2 separate regions of the Homo sapiens genome follow, and region 2 is linked to region 1. The links come from fine-mapping of genetic effects on gene expression. A gene starts in region 1. The other region holds a variant in brackets. All regions are shown on one strand. Distances are between the middles of the regions. Region 1 holds the start of MCFD2-AS1 (MCFD2 antisense RNA 1). Region 2 overlaps LOC101926974 (a long non-coding RNA gene).

What was found. PIP is the estimated chance that this variant, and not a neighbour inherited with it, causes the effect. A credible set is the group of variants that fine-mapping cannot tell apart.
Region 2: its variant is the best candidate, but not a certain one, in a credible set for the expression of MCFD2-AS1 in minor salivary gland (GTEx, PIP 0.78).

What each region holds. Positions count from the first base shown.
Region 1 is chr2:46,897,201-46,901,603 of GRCh38, forward strand. MCFD2-AS1 (MCFD2 antisense RNA 1) reads left to right here and starts at 2,075. Exons shown (of 2, transcript NR_199007.1): 1 at 2,075-2,114.
Region 2 is chr2:46,277,770-46,282,172 of GRCh38, forward strand. All of the region lies in intron 2 of LOC101926974 (a long non-coding RNA gene), which reads left to right. Among named protein-coding and RNA genes, the nearest start is that of EPAS1, 17 kb to the right of the region's middle. The variant T/C (reference allele first, on the strand shown) is at 2,574.

The sequences.
Region 1 (4,403 bases):
AGAAGTTACATGGCAAACACACAATAAATATCCAATGAATGAATCAACAAATAAACAAACACACAACTGAATAAAATGGTAGATATATATAGTGCTGGTGTATACAGCACTAATGTGACCAGAAATTTAAAAGCACTAATATCTCGTTGCTCTATGTTTAGGGAAACACTTGTTGGTATATGCTATGAGTCTAGCTAAAGGAAATAGCCTCTTTATATACAATGTGAATGAAGTTTTAATTAGAGTAACTCTTTGGGACAGCAATTTAGCAATATTGACCAAGGTTTAAAATTGCTCAAACCTCAGTAACTCAATTTCCTCAAAAAATAATGGTAAAAATAGAAAAGGTTTTATGCATGAGCATGCCTTTGATAAAACAAACAAACATACAATTGTATAAATATCACGATTACAAGTATGTAAGAAACAAACAAAATAGAAACAGGAAAAAAACATCAAAAGGAGATAGACCGTAATACAATGGCTATATTGGACAATTGGATTGTATTTTCATCCCTCCTCTATTCCGTATTTTCAAATGATCTTTAATGAAAGTTTTTTTTATAATAAAACACCAGCATTTTATTCCTGTAGCACCAAGAGTGACAGAGTGAATTACAGTTGTGTAGTCAAGCACAGAGTGGGAAAAGATGTCACATTTATACATTTTAAAGAGCATTACTGTAAAAATCAATTACATTTGACATAGAAACTCCCCTCCCTTGAGTTCCCCTGCTAAATGTTCATCCTCACACAATATCCTGTAGACTTTCCCAGTCCTGTTCCCATCTGCAATTCAGCACTCTGGTGCCATCGAATCCTGGGCACAGACCAGAACATGGCTGACCTTCCCGTTTGCCTCCCATCTCATCTCTCATGCGCCTTCTTGGCATATTTCTATTCTCTCTTCCTGGCTATAGGACTTGGGTGGGTGACTTAATTTTTGTAGGCAGACCTTCCCACTTGCTCAGGAAGCATCCCCCTGAAGGGATCTGGCAGTCTCCTGGCTGCAAAGCAGGCACTCCTCCCTACTAAGGAATGCCTGGGGTGAGGGGAAGCAACCCCAGTGCAGATGCTTTGGGTTAAGAAGTAGAGAGGTGTAGATCGGCTCAAATGGCCCTTGCATAGCTGAATAATTTTTGTTTTCCTAAAATGGTTTTAGATGGGATCGTGTCTGAAAACCAGTCTTTGTTCCTGGGAGGTAAGTTTGAGTGATTCCCGGCAGTCAGGGGGCAAAACTGGATGATGATGTGCTGTCAGAAAGAATAGGGAACACAGCTTCCCCACTTGTTGATGGTGGGGGCACAGGCGAGAATACGGTGCCCACGGCCCTCTGGACTGTTCTGCTGAAGGCCCGAGCCTTCCAATACAGTATAATAATGGCCTCAGCAGAGCCATGGAGCCAGAATACCAGATAGCGGCGAGGAAGGAGATTTCTCTGAAAGAAGCAAATAGTCCATTGCCAATCATGCTATGGCATCCCGTGCAGCAGCTCCCCACCCGCCTCTTCCGGTAATTGTACCTGGATTTCCTTCTCTGAAATGCCTCCTCCCCACTGTCAATCATTTTATTACCAGTGGGGCTCCAGCCCCTCACCCAGGATGCAGCACATAACCAAGGCCTGAGCCAACTGGCCCATGTGGCATGGCCCTGGCCTCAGTGATTTGTCCAGGGGTGGACTGGGAATAATAATGCTGGCTGTCACTGAAAAAGTGCTTCCTCTATCCCGGCTTCGTTGTTAGGATTTTACCATGTTAACTCAATTAACCCTCACAGTGACCAGATGAGGTGATACCATCATTATTATCCCTATTGTCATATGAGGAAACTGAGGCACAAAGGCACTAAGTAGCATGCCCAAGCGACAGAGCTCATAAGTGGCAAAACCAGGACTGATACCAAGACAGTCTGACGCCAGAGTTCATTCTCTTAGCACTATGCCATAGAGCCTTCTAGGTCAGCCGTGGCACAGGTGTGTGGCATAGGTGTGCCGTGATAGGCTTTTTCCTGAAGCTGAGGCGCATGCTCTGGAGCGGGCGCCGCCATCTTGCCCCTACGCGGAGCCGGAGAATGCAGATCTGAAGATGGGGAGGAGAGCAGAGCGTGGTGGCACGGTGAGCTCTAGACTTGGTCTGGTCTGAAGCCAGTTCATTATTTGGCAAAAAAATTATTACGTTCCCACCTTCTGGACCCGTTTGTTTCTCATTCCAGGTTGAGTTGGTTTTGGTTACTCTCCTCCCCGTATCGCATTTTGTCTTTTCTTCCTAATAACTCCTATTGATTGGATATTAAATGTCCACGATAGATCCTCTTATTTTCTCATCCATTCTCTGTTATCACTTATCTATTTGTCTTTCTGTTCTGCTTTCTGGGAGATTTCCCTGAGCTTATGGTTTAACCCTTTTAAGAAAAAGCATGGGGGAGGGGTATCATCATTTTTATTTTTAGATTCTCTTTTCCAGTTGTTCCTTGTTTTATTGGCATCTGAATGTTGTTCATGGATGTGATGAAGTCCTACTTCTCTGAGGATACTGATTATAATTTTTAAAAGTTATCTTCTAGTCCCTGCATTATCTCCTTGATGTTTCCTTTCTGTTTGTTTTGATTTCTGCTTCACCTTAAAGCTTTCCTTCAGGCTGGGTGCGGTGCCTCACGCTTGTAATCCCAGCACTTTGGGAGGCCGAGGTGAGCGGATCATGAGGTCAGGAGTTTGAGACCAGCCTGGCCAACACAGTGAAAACCCGTCTCTACTAAAAATACAAAAATTAGCTGGGCATGGTGGCAGGCGCCTGTAATACCAGCTACTCGGGAGACTGAGGCAGGAGAATCGCTTGAACCCGGGAGACGGAGGTTGCAGTGAGCCGAGATTGTGCCATTGCACTCCAGCCTGAGCGACAGTTAGACTCTAAAAAAAAAAACCAAACAAACAAAAAATGCTTTCCTTCAGCTGTCTTATGATTCTAAAGAATCCATTTAGATTTAAGTGTGAGACACTAGAAAGCTGATCTGATGCTATCGGGGCATGGAAGGGCTCAGTTTGGTGGCTTCTCTGCTGGGGGAGGAGGCCAGCCAGATTTTTCATAGGAACTCCTAAATGTCAGGACTTGAAGATCCTTTCCCTGGGGGCAGTTCAGTTTCTCTAGAAAAAGAACATTTAACCTCATTCCTAGGGCGTGCGAACCTGGCTGCTGTGATCACATGTAGTTCATTGCTGTTCTGTTTTCACCATGGTCTCTCATTCCCGCTCTCTTTTGCTTGGTATTTCCAAGCTGAGAGTTTCTCTGGCTCACTTTCTTCAGAGACAGAGAAGTCACCTGTCAGACGAGGTGAACCACAAACCCCTTTGGTCTGGCTCCTATGTCAATACTTTTGTGTTGTTCATTGTACTTGCCGTGACCCTTAGTTCCTCCTTGAGAGAAGTCACTCATTAATTCATCCATTCATTCACTCAGCATTTATATGGAAGAATGTAAGAAGCTGAGAAGCCCCTTTGAACCTTGCCCCTAAAGAGTCATCAATTTCTTCAAAGCCCCTCCATCCCCTAGTTTGCAATGAGGAAGGGGCTCAGGCTCTTCAGCCAGGCTGGGGAACAGATGACTGTTTATTTAGCACCTACTCTGTGCCAGGCACAGCACTAGGTGCTTTATCTACTTTCTCTCATTTTGCTAATCCTGTTAATCCTCTGCAGGTAACTGTTATTATAGTTATATTTTAGATGAGAAACTGAAGTATAGAAACTTCAATGCTAAGAAACAGGCCTAGGATTTCAACTCAGGCATGCCTGAGTCCAAAGCTTGTGCTCTTTCTTCATATAAGGCTGCTTCTGCTGGATATACTTACCTCCATTTTAGAGAAAAGGAAACTGGGGTGCAGCGATGTTCCTTATACATTCTGAAGAATTCTTGAGGCAGGCTGCAAGAAGCCAAGGCCTCATGTGTGGGAGATAGAGGGCATATGCAGGGAAGGGCCCATCATGCTGTGTCCCTGATGTCCCAGGAAACTCTCCCATCAGGAGAATTTTTTATAAGGAAGGGCAGGCAAGGACCACAAAGGCCAGCATGGAATAGTTACTAACAGCAGCCAGCTGTGGAGAAGGAAGGTGTTCCAGCCTTGTCTGTTTGATGGGGTGATTCCACTATCTGAGGATCTGCTTCTCTCCCTCTCCCAGCTGCCAACAACTGGGAGCCCATTCACTAGATCCATCCAGAGGGGTAGTTCTGGATGAAGAAGGGTCAGTGCAAGGTCCGAGGGTCTCAGAGGGTACGGAGGGAGGCAATGATAATTTCCTTTTAAAAGGCAGAAAAAAGTGTGTCTTCTCAAAATGCCAGGGGAGACTTTTTTTGCTTGGGTCTGGTATGTTTTCAATAATGCTATCAAATTAAAAAACAGTCGCCAGACCAGGG
Region 2 (4,403 bases), 620 kb before region 1:
TCCCTCCCCCAGGGACTCTGAGCACTCCTGGGGCAGTGGCGCCTCAGCTGCTGAGATCAAGGTACACAAAGAGTGTGCTGGGCTGGTGGATTGGCCACCACTCAGCCCCCAAGGCCTGCCCAGTCTTTCCTTGAAAGTCCTTCGCCACTGGTCCTTTTCTTCCCATTCCCACCTCCACAGTCCTAATCCATGCCCCTGGCATCTCATCTGGATGGCATGAATGTCTCTGACTCACCACCTTGTCTCCAGTCCCTACCAGTTCCTACTGTCTCCTGCCAATGTTTAGAATCACCTTCAGATACCTCTTTTCAAAGTCACCTCTTTGTTTGGAAATGTGCAGCAGATGCCTCTCATTGTCCAAAGGACAAAGTCTGGACACTCAAACCTGGCATTCTTAGTCCTTTGCAAACTGACCCCAACTCTCTTGTGTGTACTTTTCCCTACTTCTCCCCTTCACCAGCCTCCTTCCAACAGTCTACACACTGTCCCTCAAATGTCCCAGCTCTGTGCTTTACCCGTCCTGAAAGCCTTTCCCAATCCTCTGTGGCAGTCCAGCCCTAACAATCCTTCTGCACTCCCAGACAGTCCTGGCTCAAGCCATGTCTGAGCTCTGTGTCCTTTGTGCATATACCTCTACAACAGTTATTTGATAACCAATTGGATGGTCAATCTTGAAAACTTTTAAGGTCCCTTCAGTCCTGCAGTTCTATGCTACCATATGTTTTTGCTGTTATTTTTCACAAGTCTGTCTTAGTTCTCCATTTACAGAGTAAGAAACCTGAGGACCAGACCTTGCCTCATATTGGTCTGCATCTTCTGTGATATAGTAGTGCCTGGCACAGGGTAGGAGCCTCAATATGGGTTTACTAATGGAAGATTCCAGACCCCCATCTGCAGGTATGGCCATTCTCAGTAGTTCCCTGTTCAGTTCCCTTATGCAGGGGCTCTCACATACTTGCCTTCTGAAGGGGAGCTGATAAATATATACATATCAATACGTACATATTAATATATTTGTCCTCCAAAGGGAATCTGCATTGTGAAAGGTATCTAGAAAGAACATTCAGCTTTAGTGGTGGGATGCCAGTTACCAGTGAAGGCAAAATGCTTGGCATAGGAACCTTCCTTGGAGCCATCTCCCTACCTTCTTTCCCTGGATGTTCTGCCAGCTCTAGACTGGGGGGATAGAAAGAGGAGAAAAAAACCATTTACAAGGAAACTCCCTCTCACTCCTTCACTCTGTGCAAACTTTACCTCCCTAGATGTCATCCTGAGAAGAAACCCTGAATATGGGTTGTCAGGGTGAAGGGAAGGAGGGGTCGTCCCTATTCCTCCATCACTAGTCAGCAAGGCTGCCTGAGCTCCAGCTGGCACCATGCCCTGAAGGAAGGAGCTAGCTCAGTCCTCCTGGGCCAACAGACCTGCTGGGAAGAGAAATGTTACTCGAGTAAAGGAGAGTGAGACAGACTGTCAATGGCACATAGGGTTCAGAGCAAGAAAGATGTGTGCGGGAAAGAAGAGGGAGGGAGAAACAAACCTGCATTTATTTGAGCATCTGTTATGTGCCAGGCACTGTGCTGGTCACATTCATCATCTAATGTTCTCAACGATCTTGATAACTGTCCTTAGCTCCATTCTCCGATATAGAAGTTCATTTCTTCTCAGACCGTTTCTCTATTGTTCTTTTTTCTGTTTTTTTAATAAGCTCATGAAGTATTGATAGTCATTATAGATATGGCATATAAAAGAATATAAAAGTGTATGGAAGAAAATAAAAATCACATATAATCCCATGCCCAAGATAAATCATTGCTAGCATTTAAGTGTGTGCATTCCTAGTTTTAAAATTCATTTTAAACATATATTTAAAATATGTATATACAATTTTCTGTTCTTCTTTTAATGACCTTTATAACAAAAATTTTCCATGTCATTAAAATTTCTTTTTTTTTTCTTTTTTTTAAATTTTTTTTATTTGATTATTATTACGCTTTAAGTTTTAGGGTACATGTGCACAACGTGCAGGTTAGTTACATATGTATACATGTGCCATGCTGGTGTGCTGCACCCATTAACTCGTCATTTAGCATTAGGTATATCTCCTAAAGCTATCCCTCCCCCCTCCCCCCACCCCACAACAGTCCCCAGAGTGTGATGGTCCCCTTCCTGTGTCCATGTGTTCTCATTGTTCAATTCCCACCTATGAGTGAGAATATGCGGTGTTTGGTTTTTTCTTCTTGCGATAGTTTACTGAGAATGATGATTTCCAATTTCATCCATGTCCCTACAAATGACATGAACTCATCATTTTTTATGGCTGCATAGTATTCCATGGTGTATATGTGCCACATTTTCTTAATCCAGTCTATCGTTGTTGGACATTTGGGTTGGTTCCAAGTCTTTGCTATTGTGAATAGTGCCGCAATAAACATACGTGTGCATGTGTCTTTATAGCAGCATGATTTATAGTCCTTTGGGTATATACCCAGTAATGGGATGGCTGGCTCAAATGGTATTTCTAGTTCTAGATCCCTGAGGAATCGCCACACTGACTTCCACAAGGGTTGAACTAG[T/C]TTACAGTCCCACCAACAGTGTAAAAGTGTTCCTATTTCTCCACATCCTCGCCAGCACCTGTTGTTTCCTGACTTTTTAATGATTGCCATTCTAACTAAAAAACATCTTTAGTGCATTCACAGTGTCCCATTATGTGGTGATACAACAAGTTTCTTAGCTGTTCTCCAACTGCTAGATACCTGTTTTCCTATTTTTTAAATTATAAGTAATGGTTTAATCACCATTGAGTCTTGGCTCTTTATACCAACATGTTTCACTGAATTTCTGATTTTTTAAACATATTTGAAGAAGAGGAATTACTGGGTCAAACAGTGTTATTGTGATTTTAAATAGTAGTTTATTTTCACATTTTAAAAGTAATGCTTCTTTACTGTGAAAAGCTTAGAAAATATAAGAAAACGTCATGTATGACCTTTCAAATTACTATTATTAACCTTTTGGGGTGTTTCTCAGTCTATTTTCTAATATATAAGCATAAATATAGCAGCATAAAATTGAGATTATATATTATGTACGTTATTTCCTGCTTATCAGCAAACATTGTATTGTAATCACTATATCATCAATCTATGAAAATATTTTTATTAGCTGTAAAATTCCACTTTAAGAATGCATTATAACCAATTTAAACATTCTTTTACTCATGGCCATTTAGATTTTTTTCCAAAAATTTCCTGTTAATAACTCTGTGATGAACATCTGAACATCTGTGAATATTAATCTTTGACCTCATCTCTGATTATATCCTTCAAACAGATTCCTAGAAGCGAAATTACTAGGTCAAAATGCATGAGCATTGTTAAAGCTGTTGGTACATATTGCCAAATTGTGTTCCAAAAAGCATTCCTAATAACCAAGTGGAGGTTGTCCATCTTATCACACCCTTGTCAATACTGATTATTATAGATTAAAAACTATAGTAGTTTTTCATAAGTGAAACGTGCCTCATTTCTTTAATTTTCACTTTTATTATTAGGGATGTTAAACATGTCTTAAAACGTTATTAGCTACATGTATTTCATCTTTTGGAATTATCTGTTTGTGACTCTTATCTACTTATTGTTTTTGTCTTATATTTCTTTTCAAAATTTATTTATTTATTTAATTTTTTGTGACATGGTCTCACTCTGTTGCTAAGTCTGGAGTGTAGTGGTGTGAGCTTGGCTCACTGCAGCCTTCACTACTTGAGCTCAAATAATGCTCCCACCTCAGCCTCCTGAGTAGCTGGGACTATCACCACACCTGGCTAATTTTGGGGTTTAGAGACAGGATTTTGCTATGTTGCCCACGCGGGTCTCGAACTCCTGGGCTCAAGCAATCTGCCTGCCTCAACCTCCCAAAGTGCTGGGATTACAGGCGTTAGCCACCACACCTGGCCCTTAGTATACTTCTTGTTGTTTTAGATGAACTCTTTATATTTTAAGGATGTTAACTCAATGCCTGTTATATTCATTATTGAAGAATTGTCCAAAAAAAGAAGAAAATAGCATCATTTTTATAGAAATGGAAGCCAAGACTCAATGAGGAAAGTGAATTATCTAAGGTCAGCCAACTGGCAAGTGGCCTAGCTGGGATTTGAACTCAGGTATGACTGGCTCCAGGGCTCTTCATCAGAAAAAATAATAAGACAATAACAGTAGCTGTGGAAGCCTTAGTGGTAGAACTTGAGTATGTTCTGTGGGATGACTAGAGGTCAGCTGTTGGAGGGGTTGGGGACACATATGGGGAAGGAGAAGGAACAAGGTGCTGTGGACTTGGGAGCCAGAAAAGGACCTGGCTTGGTGCCAGCTATGCATCTTTCTACCCATTGCCTCCAAGCTGAGGTACAT